2 separate regions of the Homo sapiens genome follow, and region 1 is linked to region 2. Evidence: fine-mapped expression QTL. Tissue or cell type: tibial nerve. Region 2 holds a variant in brackets; the other region holds the start of a gene. All regions are shown on one strand. Distances are between the middles of the regions.

What was found. PIP is the estimated chance that this variant, and not a neighbour inherited with it, causes the effect.
Region 1: it holds the start of KMT5C, and the variant in region 2 is fine-mapped to the expression of KMT5C in tibial nerve (GTEx, PIP 0.95).

The regions. Positions count from the first base shown.
Region 1 is chr19:55,335,814-55,342,028 of GRCh38, forward strand. KMT5C (lysine methyltransferase 5C) reads left to right here and starts at 4,063. Exons shown (of 9, transcript NM_032701.4): 1 at 4,063-4,144; 2 at 5,981-6,215. The coding sequence starts at 6,124. RefSeq lists enhancers at 2,207-2,981, 2,982-3,755, 4,065-4,134 and silencers at 4,155-4,214, 5,460-5,639.
Region 2 is chr19:55,387,496-55,395,367 of GRCh38, forward strand. RPL28 (ribosomal protein L28) reads left to right here. Exons shown (of 5, transcript NM_000991.5): 4 at 435-553; 5 at 748-4,590. The coding sequence ends at 837. MIR6805 (microRNA 6805) reads left to right here and starts at 686; the gene lies at 686-747. The variant G/A (reference allele first, on the strand shown) is at 3,330.

The sequences.
Region 1 (6,215 bases), 53 kb before region 2:
CCAAGGTGGGTGGATCACAAGGTCAGGAGATCGAGACCATCCTGGCTAACAGAGTGAAACCCCATTTCTACTAAAAATACAAAAAATTAGCTGGGCGTGGTGGTGGGCACCTGTAGTCCCAGCTACTCGGGAGGCTGAGGCAGGAGAATGCCGTGAACCCGGGAGGCAGAGCTTGCAGTGAGCTGAGATCGCACCACTGCACTCCAGCCTGGGCAACAGAGCGAGATTTTGTCTCAAGATAAAAAAAAGAAAGAAAAGAAAAAGAAAGAAGGAAGGAAGGAAAGAAAGGGAAAGAAAGAAAGAAAAGAAAGAAAGAAATGCAGTTTTGTTACAGGTGTAGTTAAAAAAAATAGAGATAAAAAGAAAAATATAATGAACTCATGGATTCCACCACAGGGCTTAAACAAAATTTCCAAATACCAATGTCCCGTGTAGCTTTCCCGATTGCATTCTTCCCTCCCCACCCTCAGGGGCGGCCGCTTCCCTCCCCATGCTGTGTTAGTCATGCCCTTCACGTGTGTATCCTTTTGCCACATGTATCCACATGCAACCATTGTTTTGTTTTGCTTTGTTTTTTGAGATGGAATTTCGCTCTTGTCATCCAGGCTGGAGTGTAGTGGTGCAATCTCGGCTCACTGCAACCTCTGCCTCCTGGGTTCAAGCAATTCTCCTGCCTCAGCCTCCTAAGTAGCTGGGATTACAGGTGCCTGCCACCATGTGCGGGTAAATTTTTGTATTTTTAGTAGAGACGGGGTTTCATCATGTTGGCCAGGCTGGTCTCGAACTTCCGACCTCAGGTGATCCACCGGCCTCGGCCTCCCAAAGTGCTGGGATTACAGGCGTGAGCGGCTGTGCCCAGCCATTGTATGTGTTTCAAAACTTCGTGTCAATGGCATTGTAGACTTCTGCAACTACGGGTTGTCCCGGGTGATATATGGGACACTGGTGCATCTACTTTCACTGACATATGGTGTTCCCCTGTATCAATATACCAGGATCCATGTTTCCATTCTTCTGGTGATGGAAACCGTTTCCAGTTCCTCACCGTTACAAACACGATAGCGAGCATTCTTGCATTTATCTCTTTATTCCAAGTCGGAGAGTTTCTCTAGAGTGTACACCCACCCACTAGTAGAAGGACTGTACTTCATACAGACTGATACAACTTTTCCAGTTAGCTGAGTTTCCATGAAGTCCTTTATGCTTGCCATTTCCCCCTCCCTGGGTAAGGCTGCTTTTCTCTTCTGGAGCTGGTCACCTGTCCCTCCCCACTGATGACCAGGAGTTACAGTTGGCATCACCTTGCTCTGGTATGGCCACCTCTGTCCACCTCTGTCTCCTCTAGCTGCTCCATGGCAAGTCCCCAGCCCCAGTTCCCTTCTGCCGGCATGGTCCTGGTCAAAGTGATGGTCCCGAGAAAGGTTTGGTCGACTTTAGCTGTAGTGGTGCCTGCCTGAGTTAGGGGGTATTTCAGAGCTCATGAGAGATTAGGGAGGTAAAGCATGGGGCTAGGGGATAGTCCCTGTTGGAGAAGAAATAGCATGAACAAAGGGTGGAAAGCTGGAAGCCAAACAAGTGTATGGTCTATGTTTTATAGATGGGAACCCAAAGCCCAGAGATGGCAAGTCACTTCCTCAAAGTCACAGAGCAATGCAGAGACTGTCAGCTTCATCCTTATTGGTTGGTCATTCACACATTCATTCAGTACATATTAACAAAGTGCCTAGGCCAGCCATGGTGGCTCACACCTGTAATCCCAGCACTTTGGGAGGCTGAGGTGGGTGGATCACCTGAGGTCAGGAGTTCAAGACCAGCTTGGCCAGCATGGCGAAACCCCACCTCTACTAAAAATACAGAAACTAGCTGGGCATGGTGGTGGGCACCTGTAATCCCAGCTACTCAGGAGGCTGAGGCAGGAGAATCACTTGAATTCGGGAGGCAGAGAGCCGAGATCGCACCACTGTACTCCAGCCTGGGCGACAGAGCAAGACCCTCTCTCAAAAAAAAAAAAAAAGAAGGGAGCATCACTTGAATGAGCCCCTAGAGAGACCCTGTCTCTACAAAAATTAAAGGATTAGCCGAGCATGGTGGCATGCGTCTGTGGTCCCAGCTACTCAGGAGGCTGAGGCTGTAGGATCGCTTGAACCCAGGAGGTCGAGGCTGCAGTGAGCCATCCTTGCACCACTGCACTCCAGCCTGGGCAACAGAGGAAGACCCTGTCTCAAAACACAATACAGGCCAGGCATGGTGGCTCATGCCTGTAATCCCAGCACTTTGGGAGGCTGAGGTGGGTGGATCACCTGAGGTCAGGAGTTCGAGACCAGCCTGACCAACATGGTGAAACCCCGTATCTACTAAAAAAAAAAAAAAAAAAAAAAATTAGCCGGGCATGGTAGTGCATGCCTGTAATCCCAACTATTTGGGAGGCTGAAGCAGGAAAATCGCTTGAACCTGGGCGGCGGAGGTTGCAGTGAGCCGACATCGCACCATTCCACTCCAGCCTGGGCAACAAGAGGGAACTCTGTCTAAAAAAAAATTAGCCAGGGGTGGTAGTGCATGCCTGTAATCCCAGCTACTTGGGAGGCTGAGGCAGGAGAATCGTTTGAACCTGGGAAGCAGAGGCTGCAGTGAGCCGAGATCACTCCACTGCACTCTAGCCTGGGCGAGAGAGCGATACTCTGTCTCTGTCTCTCTCTCTCTCTCTCTCTCTCTCTCTCTCTCTCTCTCTCTCTCTCTCTCACACACACACACACACACACACACACACACACCAAAACACCAAAAACAGCACACCAAAACAGCACCTACTCTGTGGCATGCATTGTTTTAAGTGCCCACGATCTATAGCTGTACAGTGGAGCGCATGTCTGACAGTGATCCTATATGTGTAGACACACAAGCGCCTACATTGTGTTACCGGACAGTAACATGCTGCACAGCTGTGTGGCCCAGGAGCCGCCGGCCACCTTACAGCCCAGGTGCCAGCAGCCCTGCCACGTAGGTGTGAGTGATGTTGCTCTAGGATGCTGGCAGGATGACGACATCGCCTGAGCACGCACTGCCCAGATGGTATCAGTGTCGTTAAGGGAAGAATGGCTGTGGCGAAACAAACAAACAAGCAAACAAAGACCGCCTGTTCTGAGTGTGGAGCTTATTATTCTCGGCGTAATTATGATGAATTGTTAGTTACGTTTGCCTCTAGGATTGAGGTAGGGGGGGTGATCCCAATTAGGGGGTGCCCCAGGGGAGCGCCCCAGGAGTCAGGGCTTGTCTCAAAAGTCCCCACTCCTCCCTCAGCCTCCCCTCCCTCCATCCGACCCCGTTCATATCGCGGGAAGGTCCCACAGAGTGCGTGTGGATACTCCCAAAACGCAACGGTGTAAACGGGGAGGGAGGGAGAGAGACTGAGGAGCCCTTTGTAGCCAGGCAGAGCTGTCAATAAAGTTTCGTCGCCTTGGTAACCGCAGGCCTCGCGGGGCGGGAGGGGAGAGGGATGGCGGTGCGCGCGCATTCACCGCCTCCCTCCCGCCGGGTCTGGCTTTCTCCCTCCTGTGGCCGAAGCTTTCCTCGGAGAAATAGAAGAGGGAGGCCGCGACTCTATGGTGATGGACGGAGGCCTTACCCAATGGAAAGAGGAGCTGTCCCAAGGCCAGGCAATCATATACGACTACTGGAGCTGGCAGAGCCCGCCCTCTTTCCACTTGGACCTGAATAACCCGACCCAAACCGAGTTTCGCCCGGAGAGACTGCGCTTTCGGCCAATGAGTGCGTCGATTTCGAGCCCCAGTGTGAGCGAAGGCGGGACAAGTCTCCATGGCAGCGACTAAAGGACAGCGATGTGAACCACTGACAACAGTTCGCGGCGTTTGACGGCGGCGGGGGCGTGGCGGGGTTTTATCTGTGTATTGACGAGAGCCGGGCGCGGAGGGAAAGAGTGGGGCTTGGCCAATGGGAGCGCCGTGAGCTTCGTAGCAACGGAGGAGTGGCGGTGGCTGTGGCCAATAGAAAGCCTCAGTGGCCTTGGCGGGGCTGGCCCGGAGAGCAGATGGGAGGTGCGGCGACAGTGTTTGACGAGAGCCGAAGGAGGCTGTGGGAGGTGTTGGCGGCGGCGGCGCGGGCGCCTGAGGAGGAGGAGGAGAAGCGGGTGAGGGGCGGCGCGGGGCCCGATCTCTGAGCCCCTTCACGGCCCCAGCCCCGCGCCGCCTTGGCTCCCCAGTCGCCCCCTGCCCCGACTGCCCCCCACCCCGCCCGGCCCCTCCTCGTGTCCAGGCGCCCACGTCTCCCGGCCCCTCGCCGGGCCTCGGGCTCCGCGGCACTGCAGCCTCCTTCCTGTGCTTCCTCACCCGGGCCCTGACCCCCTTCTTACGTCCACGGCCCTCCCTGCATCCTCAGGGCCTCTCCCTGACCTCTTGTCACTCTCCAGGCCTCTCCCTGCACCCCCCAGGGCCTTTCCCTGACCTCACCCTCCAGGCCTCTCCCTGCACCCCCAGGTCTCTCCCTGCACCCTCAGGGCCTCTCCCTGACCCTTCTCTCACCCCCGGGACCTCCCTGCACTCCCAGGGCCAATCCCCGACCTCCTCTCACCCTCCAGGCCTCCTTCTGGACCCTCTAGGTCTTTCTGTGCCCTAGAACCTCTCCCTGACCCCTCTGTCCCTCTCCTGGCACTCCCTGGACCCTGAGGTCGGCCTCTGACCCTCCAGGTCCCTTGCCCTGGGCTCTCACCGCCTACCCAGGCGCCTCCCTGGGTCCCCAGGCCCTTCCCTAGGGTCTCCCTTTCCTGGATCCCCCAGGACCCCACCAAGCCCGTTTGGATCCCTGGGCCCCTGTCCGCCCTCTCAGGCCCTTCACTCACTGGACACCCAGGATCTTCTCCGCCATCCCTGGACCGCCCCCCGACCCAGGTCTCCCGTCTGGCTCCTCCCTGAGTCCCTAGGCCATTCCCCGCTCTCTGTCCTCCCTGGCACCCCCATCCCTTCCTCACACCCCTCTGAGCGCCCCCAGGCCCGGCTGCAGCCTTCTCCCTCCCACAGCCCCCTGCCGTGCCCACCGCTGTGCGTTTCTCTCCTTGCCCCCAGCCCCCTCTCCAGCTTCCCCGCTGTCCCTGGCGTCCTCCTGCAGCGCCCCCTCTTTCTCTCCCGCAGCCTCGCAGTCTGTCCCCGACCCCTCCACAGCCGTCTCTGCAGCTCCCGCTCCTTGCCCTGCCCCATCTCCTCCTCTCCTGGGCGCGGATGAGCCTCGAGCGCCGTGGTGCGGGGACGAGGCTGGCCCTCCGTCCGGGTTAGGGGTTTGGGTGGTTTTCTTCATCTCTCCGTTCTCTCCTGGCTCCGCTTTAAAAAAATGTTTTTGTAAATATTGACCTGTGCTGCCTCCCCATAGTCTTCCTTTGCTCCCCTCCCCACCCCCGCTTTTGTCCTCTGAGCCCCCCTCCCCTGGAATCCTTGGAGAGGGAGCAGGTGCTGGGATCCCTCCCCTGCCCTCCCTCCCGTCACCCGCCTCCAGGCTGCCTGGGGCTTCACCCGGAGCCTCCTGACCACTCCCGAAGGCTGCCGGGGAGGCAGGGGGCGGAGACCGAGGCTGGGTCGAGGTGGGGGTGGAGGGCGGGACCTCGGGCTGGCGGGAAGCTTTGACTTTTCCTCCTTGAGGGCTAGAGGTGAAGCGGCTCCCCACGGTGCTAAGCCTTTAGGGTGATCCCGGCTGCCAATCAGTCAGCCTTCTCTGGGCCCAAAGAGATGTGTGTGTGTAGGGGGTCTCTGTACATATGGGCAGGGGCATCTGCGTGTGTCAGTCTGAGTGTGCATGGGTGTGCATGTGGGGGTTGTGTGTTTAGGGGGGATCTGTGTCTGCGCTGCGGAGCAAGAGCAAGAGCTAAGGCGATGGCTGACATGGCTCTGGGCTTTCCCTACTCTCAGAAGTACTTGTTGCATTCCATCTTCGCCAGCGGCCTGGTGAAGTCAGCACTGCTTTTCTCCCCATTTTGCAGATGAGATCGTGGGGCTCACCAGCGTCCCCCATGGCTTCTGAGTAGCGTGGGAGTGGAGTCAGCACCAAGCCAGGCTCCCCGCGCCTGCCTTGCCCTCACCTGCTCCTGCTCTCTGCCAGAGGCAGCATGGTCCGCAGGGCACCATGGGGCCCGACAGAGTGACAGCACGAGAACTGTGCGAGAACGACGACCTGGCCACCAGCCTCGTCCTGGACCCCTACCTCGGTTTCCGCAC
Region 2 (7,872 bases):
CCTTCCTAGACTAAGGGACTGGCCTGAGTGAGGCTGGGCCTCTCAGCCAAGCTGATGTTGAACCACTGCTGTGGGGATGGGCCTGGGGTTCCTGGGAAGCTGTTCATACCCATTGCCAGGAGCGTGGGCTCTGGCTGGACCTGGATCAGATCCTAACTGAAGCGGCAGCTTTCTGGCATGAGAAAGGAGTGTTTTCATGGTGGACAGAATTGGGCTATGAGTGTGGCAGAAGCTGTGTCCTCAGTACTCCGTGATGACGAGTGAGCCTCTGTGAAATGGACAGGTGGGAAAACAGCTACCTGCTGGCCTGCCCAGGCACCCGCCACGGGCCCACGCTGCTCAGCTTCTCAATGTGAGACTGTCCACACCTGCGAGGTGTGCTAAAGGTGCAGGTTAGGTGGACTGACCCCAGGACCTCCCTGACCCCCAACCAGGCCAGCGGAAGCCTGCCACCTCCTATGTGCGGACCACCATCAACAAGAATGCTCGCGCCACGCTCAGCAGCATCAGACACATGATCCGCAAGAACAAGTACCGCCCCGACCTGCGCATGGTGAGCTGGGGTTTGGGGATCAGGCTTGGGGAGACTGGCCAGTGCTGTGGGGAAGGGCCTCCCACTACTGGTTGCAATATGGGCTGGAGAGGGATGGATTCTTGCTTTCAGCCTACTCCCCACACCCAGCATTGGCCTAGGGGGCGGCTTGTGGAGTGTATGGGCTGAGCCTTGCTCTGCTCCCCCGCCCCCAGGCAGCCATCCGCAGGGCCAGCGCCATCCTGCGCAGCCAGAAGCCTGTGATGGTGAAGAGGAAGCGGACCCGCCCCACCAAGAGCTCCTGAGCCCCCTGCCCCCAGAGCAATAAAGTCAGCTGGCTTTCTCACCTGCCTCGACTGGGCCTCCCTTTTTGAAACGCTCTGGGGAGCTCTGGCCCTGTGTGTTGTCATTCAGGCCATGTCATCAAAACTCTGCATGTCACCTTGTCCATCTGGAGGTGATGTCAATGGCTGGCCATGCAGGAGGGGTGGGGTAGCTGCCTTGTCCCTGGTGAGGGCAAGGGTCACTGTCTTCACAGAAAAAGTTTGCTGACTTGTGATTGAGACCTACTGTCCCATTGTGAGGTGGCCTGAAGAATCCCAGCTGGGGCAGTGGCTTCCATTCAGAAGAAGAAAGGCCTTTTCTAGCCCAGAAGGGTGCAGGCTGAGGGCTGGGCCCTGGGCCCTGGTGCTGTAGCACGGTTTGGGGACTTGGGGTGTTCCCAAGACCTGGGGGACGACAGACATCACGGGAGGAAGATGAGATGACTTTTGCATCCAGGGAGTGGGTGCAGCCACATTTGGAGGGGATGGGCTTTACTTGATGCAACCTCATCTCTGAGATGGGCAACTTGGTGGGTGGTGGCTTATAACTGTAAGGGAGATGGCAGCCCCAGGGTACAGCCAGCAGGCATTGAGCAGCCTTAGCATTGTCCCCCTACTCCCGTCCTCCAGGTGTCCCCATCCCTCCCCTGTCTCTTTGAGCTGGCTCTTGTCACTTAGGTCTCATCTCAGTGGCCGCTCCTGGGCCACCCTGTCACCCAAGCTTTCCTGATTGCCCAGCCCTCTTGTTTCCTTTGGCCTGTTTGCTCCCTAGTGTTTATTACAGCTTGTGAGGCCAGGAGTTTGAGACCATCCTAGGCAACATAATGAGACACCGTCTCTAAAATAAAATTAGCTGGGTGTGGTGGTGCACCGCCTGTGGTCCCAGCTCCTCAGAGGTTGAGTAGAGGCTGAGGTGAGCGGAGCACTTGAGCCAAGAGTATGAGGCTGCAGTGAGCCCATGAGCCCCACCACTACACTCCAGCCTGGAAGACACCATGACACACAGTGAGGCCTGGATGGGGAAAGAGTCCTGCTGTTGATCCTCACATGTTTCCTGGGCACCTAACTCTGTCAGCCACTGCCAGGGACCAAGGATCCAGCATCCATGGCACCCCTGGTTCCTGCCATCCTGGGGTACCCGATTCAAAGAAGGACTCTGCTCCCTGTCTGAGACCACCCCCGGCTCTGACTGAGAGTAAGGGGACTGTCAGGGCCTCGACTTGCCATTGGTTGGGGTCGTACGGGGCTGGGAGCCCTGCGTTTTGAGGCAGACCACTGCCCTTCCGACCTCAGTCCTGTCTGCTCCAGTCTTGCCCAGCTCGAAGGAGAGCAGATCTGACCACTTGCCAGCCCCTGTCTGCTGTGAATTACCATTTCCTTTGTCCTTCCCTTAGTTGGGTCTATTAGCTCAGATTGAGAGGTGTTGCCTTAAAACTGAGTTGGGTGACTTGGTACCTGCTCAGGACCCCCCGCACTGTCCCAATCCCACTCAGGCCCACCTCCAGCTGGCCTCACTCCGCTGGTGACTTCGTACCTGCTCAGGAGCCCCCACTGTCCCAGTCCCACTCAGGCCCATCTCTGGCTGGCCTCACTGCGCTGGGACTCCGCCTTCATAAGGAGAGCTCACTGCTCACGTTAGTAGATGGCCCCTTCTCGTGAGGCCTCTCCCCTGGCACCTGCTTCAGTTGTCCTCCACAGCACTGATTTGCAGCCCACAAGCTGGCAGGTTTATCTGTCTCATGTTTGTCTTGTGCTGGTGGGCAAGGGGTTTGTCTAGCACACCAGCATATAATGAGATGCTTGATGAATGGTGCATATTGAATGTATAAAGCCCACCGGTCCTGAGAGTTTGCTCACTGGAGACTTTCTGGAGATGGAGTCTCGCTCTGTTGCCCAGGCTGGCGAGTGCAATGGCGCGATCTTGGCTCACTGCAGCCTCCACCTCCTGGGTTCAAGCGATTCTCCTGCCTCAGCCTCCCGAGTAGCTGGGATTACAGGTGGGTGTCACCACACCCAGCTCAGTATTGTATTTTTAGCAGAGATGGGGTTTCACCATTTTGCCCAGGCTGGTTTGGAACTCCTGACTTCAAATTACCCACCTGCCTCAGCCTCCCAAAGTGCTGGCATTACAGGCGCTCGAGGCTTTCTGATGTGGCTGCTGCTGCTCAGAAGGCCTTGTCCTTAACCACCTCCTTGCCTGCCCTGGAGGCTTGTGCCTCTAGGCCCCACCCCCTGTGGAGTCCTGCTGGCTTTCTCCATCCCTATCTGAATCCTCCCTGCTGTGTGGCCTCCCCTGGTCTCATCCGTAACACAGCCCAGCTTAGTGGGCCTCTGTTCCTGCGGGTGGCCAGCCTGTCTGTGTGGCTGGGCTGGGGAGGCCACGTCTGGTATCTGAATGCTATCGGTGGGTTGGGGTGGAGGAACCAGGAGAGGGCTGGAGGGAGGGAGATGGTCTCAGCCCCACAGAGTTTGGA[G/A]TCCTCAGTGTGCTGAGCAAACGTGGAGACACCATTTCCCTCCTCTAGACCTCATCTTGGAGAGAGAGATGTTGGATGGGGCCATCTATTCCAGCTTTATTCACACAAATCATGTCTGTTGGCCTGGAAATTGGAAAACCAGTTAAACCAAAAACATGATATTAAGAAAACAGGCAGGCTCACCATAGTAAAAATGCTGAAAGCCAAAGACAAAATTGGGAGAACAAAAGAAAAGCGTCTTGTCACATACAGAAGGTCCCTGATAAAGTTAGTAGCTGCCCTCATCAGAAACCAGGCCCAGGCAGTGGGGACACATCCAGAGTGCTGAAAGAACCTCCCCCAGGTCATCCTATCCCCAAGAGTGATGCCCGGCAGCATTCCCAGCTCAGGGCTAATGGTTCACGGAAGCCAGGAATCAAACTGCCTGGGTTCCAGTCCCAGCTCTGCCAGTTATGCCCAGCTGTGGGGACTTGGGCAGCTCGTTTAGTAGCACCGTGCCTCAGTTTCCCATATGTAAAAGGCCATTTTGAGTGCCTTTCACAGCCCTGCATAAGGCAGGTGTCTCAGTGTTCACTGCTGTCTCTCCAGCTCTTAGTCCAGTAGCTGCATGGTGAGTGAGCGTAGGGCGCACCCTGGAAGGCTGCCAAGCCCAAAGTTGTGCAGAGCGCTGGGGACTCCAGACTCCCCACAGCAGCAGAGACTCGGGACTGAGGCATCCTCTGTTCACAGGACATGCTGGCATCTACTGGGTCAGGGCTCTGCTGCTCGGTGGCTGTGCAACCTTGGGCAAGTTCCTCAACCTCTCTGTGTCTTCGTACCCTCATCTGTAACATGCGTGTCGATAGACCCTACTACTCAGGGTTGATGAGAAGATTAAATGTGCAAAACCTGCTTGACTGTGCCCACAAATCCTGATTGTAGGAATAAATTAATGACTTTTTATAAATATTTTGATCAGATGGACTCATGATCACAGATGTCTTCACATGCCTATGACTAATTTGTACACAAACTAATGCTCGTGTTTCCCAAGCACCTGGAAGACATGCCAGATCCATGTGCAGTAATGCCTGGTGGCTCCAGGTCTGCCCCGCCGTCCTGTGGGGCTGTGAGCTTTCCCAGCCTCCTGCCCGTGTTTGTGAATATCATTCTGTCCTCAGCTGCATTTCCAGCCCAGGCTGTTTGGCGCTGCCCAGGAATGGTATCAATTCCCCTGTTTCTCTTGTAGCCAGTTACTAGAATAAAATCATCTACTTTAAAATCTTTCATTATGAAATATGCATGTGGTCTTGAAAAACTGCAAATGAAAGAAGAGTATGCAGGGGAAGAAAATCTCAGAATCCCAGCCCCTAAGTTAGCCACCTGTGCTTCTCCTTTTTGGAAACTTCACACATATGCATGCAGATCTCCTCTTTTTGTTTGTCTAAGAGACGGGGTCTCACTGTTGCCTGGGTTGGAGTGCAGTGGCGCAATCACGGCTCACTGCAGCCTCTAACTCCTGGGCACTCTCAATTGTCCCGCCTTAGCCCCTTGTGTAGCTGGGACTAAGGTGTGCAGCACCACGCCTGGCTAATTTAAAAAGATATTTTGTAGAGACAGGGTCTCACTGTGTTGCCCAGGCTGGTCCTGAAGTCCTGGGCACAAGCAATCCTCCTGACTTCGTCCCCCAAAGTGTTGGGATTACAAGCGTGAGCCACTGCACCCAGCCTCATCTTTTTTTTTTTTTGAGGCGGAGTCACGCTTTGTTACCCAGGCTGGAGTGCAGTGGCGCGACCTCGGGTGAGCTACGCCTCCCAGGTTCACGCCATTCTCCTGCCCCAGCCTCCCCAGGAGCTGGGACTACAGGCGCCCGCCACCACGCCCGGCTAAATGTTTTTTGTATTTTTAGTAGAGACGGGGTTTCACCGTGTTAGCCAGGATGGTCTCGATCTCCTGACCTCGTGATCCGTCCGCCTCGGTCCCCCAAAGTGCTGGGATTACAGGCGTGAGCCACCGCGTCCGGCCCCAGCCTCATCTTTTAATGTCTTACACAGATTGGATCATGGCAACAGGAACCTCCCCCTTGCTCCTTTTCCCTAATGCACTGGGCTGTCTCTCCATCAGCACACACAGGCTGCGGGCCCCTTTCGATGGCCATCAGCGCTGCATTGATGAAGCCACTCATTTAAACACACCCCTCAATGGCTAATCCCCCAGAGGCTCCCCAGCACCCCTCTCCTCTGTTCCTCTTGAACACCTGGCCCTCCCCCAGGCCCAGCCATCCCTAGCATGTCTGAATCACACCTCCAGCGGCCCCAGCTCCCACCGGCCTCCCACACCCGCCCGCTCCCCTGCTGTCCCTCCAGGCTGTTCTCTACACAGTAGCAAATTGATCTTTACAAATGATAAATGAGACCTGTCATCCTCCCTTGGCCGACGCACCCCCCCCCCCCCCCGACCCCCATGAGGAATAAAAGCCCAAACCTTTCTCTAGGGCCAGCAAGGCCCGGGATCTGGCCCTGTCCAGTCTCCCCAGCCTCCTTAGGCTGTAATCTCTGAGGCCTCTCTCCTCCCTGAAGCTCCTAGCTGGTCCCTAGGCTCAGATGAAGACTGTCTCCAAAAAAAGAAAAAGGTATAATTCACGTAACATAAAGTCCACGCTTTTAGAGTGCACAATTCAGTGATTTTTAGTCTTCACAAAGCTTTGCAACCACAACCCCTATCTTATTCCAGAACATTTCATCATCCTGAATGGACACCCAGTATCCATGAAGCAGCCACTCCCACTCATGTCCCCTCTAGCCCCTGCCCTGCCAATCACCAATTTGTTTTTTTTTTTTTTTTTTTGAGATGGAGTCTTGCTCTGTCGCCCTGGCTGGAGTGCAATGGCATGACCTTGGCTCACTGCGACCTCAGCTCACTGCAACCTCCACCTCCTGGGTTCAAGCGATTCTCCTGCCTCAGCCCCTCAAGTAGCTGGGATTACAGGGGCCCGCCACCACGCCTGGCTAATTTTTGTATTTTTAGTAGAGACGGGGGTGTCACCATGTTGGCCAGGCTGGTCTCGAACTCCTGACCTCAGGTGATCTGCCTGTGTTGGCCTCCCAAAGTGCTGGGATTACAGGTGTGAGCCACTGCACCCAGCTACAAGTCTTTTTTTTAAAGGGACAGGGTCTCAGCTGGGTACGGTGGCTCACTCCTGTAATCCCAGCACTTTGGGAGGCCCAGGCAGGCGGATCACAAGGTCAGGAGATCAAGACCATCCAGGCTAACACAGTGAAACCCTATCTATACTAAAAATACTAAAAACTGGCCAGATGTGGTGGTGTGCGCCTGTAGTCCCAGCTACTTGGCAGGCTGAGGCAGGAGAATCGCTTGAATCCAGGAGGCGGAGGTAGCAGTGAGCCAAGATCACGCCACTGCACTCCAGCCTGTGTGACAGAGCGAGACTCCGTCTCAAAAACAAACAAACAAACAAAAAGATAAAGGTCTGTTGCTCAGGCTGGAGTGCTGTGGCACAATCTCGGCTCACTGCAGCCTTGAACTCCTGGGCTCAAACAATCCTCCCACCTCAGTCTCCGAAGTAGCTGGCACCACCGGTGTGCTCCACCACACCCAGCTAAGTTTTAAATATTTTTGTAGAGACAAGGTCTCACTGTGTTACCCAGGTTGGGCTTGAATTCCTGACCTCAAGTGATCCTCCTGCCTTGGCCTCTAAAAGTGCTGGGATTACAGGTGTGAGCCACTGCACCTAGCCCAGAATTTCTATTTATTTATATATATTTTTAAAAAGAATCTCACTCTGTTTTCCAGGCTGGAGTGCTGTGGCAAGATCAAGGCTCTCTGTAGCCTTGAACTCCTGGGCTGAAACAGTCCTCCCACCTCAGTCTCCAGAGAGGCTGGGACCACAGGTGTGTGCTGCCACACCCAGCTAATTTTTAAAATTGTTTTGTAGAGACACGATCTCACTATGTTGTCCAGGCTGGTCTTGAACTCCTGGGCTCAATCCTCCCAAAGTGCTGGGATTATAGGCGTGAGCCACTGTGCCTGGCCCCACCCAGAATTTTTAAAACATGAAAAAGCTTATGTTTTGGGCCAATCTCTAAAATATATTAAGTGAAAAAAAGCAACCTGCAAATAGTGTAAATGATATGCCAACATTCCTGTTAAATATTTTTAAATATTTAAACAATAAGATGCATGTGTATTTGCTTGTATATGCATCGAATGCCTCTGGATAGTCACAATATGCAAACATTTGTCTCAAGGAAGGAGAGTTGGAATACCATGTGATGAATATTAGCCTTTCTTTTTTTTCCTTTTCTTATTTATTTATTTATTTATTTTTTTGAGACAGAGTTTCACTCTTGTCGCCCAGGCTGGAGTACAGTGGTGCGATCTCGGCTCACTACAACCTCTACCACCTGGGTTCAAGCGATTCTTCTGCCTCAGCCTCCCAAGTAGCTGGGATTACAGGCATGCGCCACCATGCCCAGCTAATTTTGTATTTTAAGTAGAAACAGGGTTTCACCATGTTGGCCAGGCTGGTCTTGAACTGACCTCA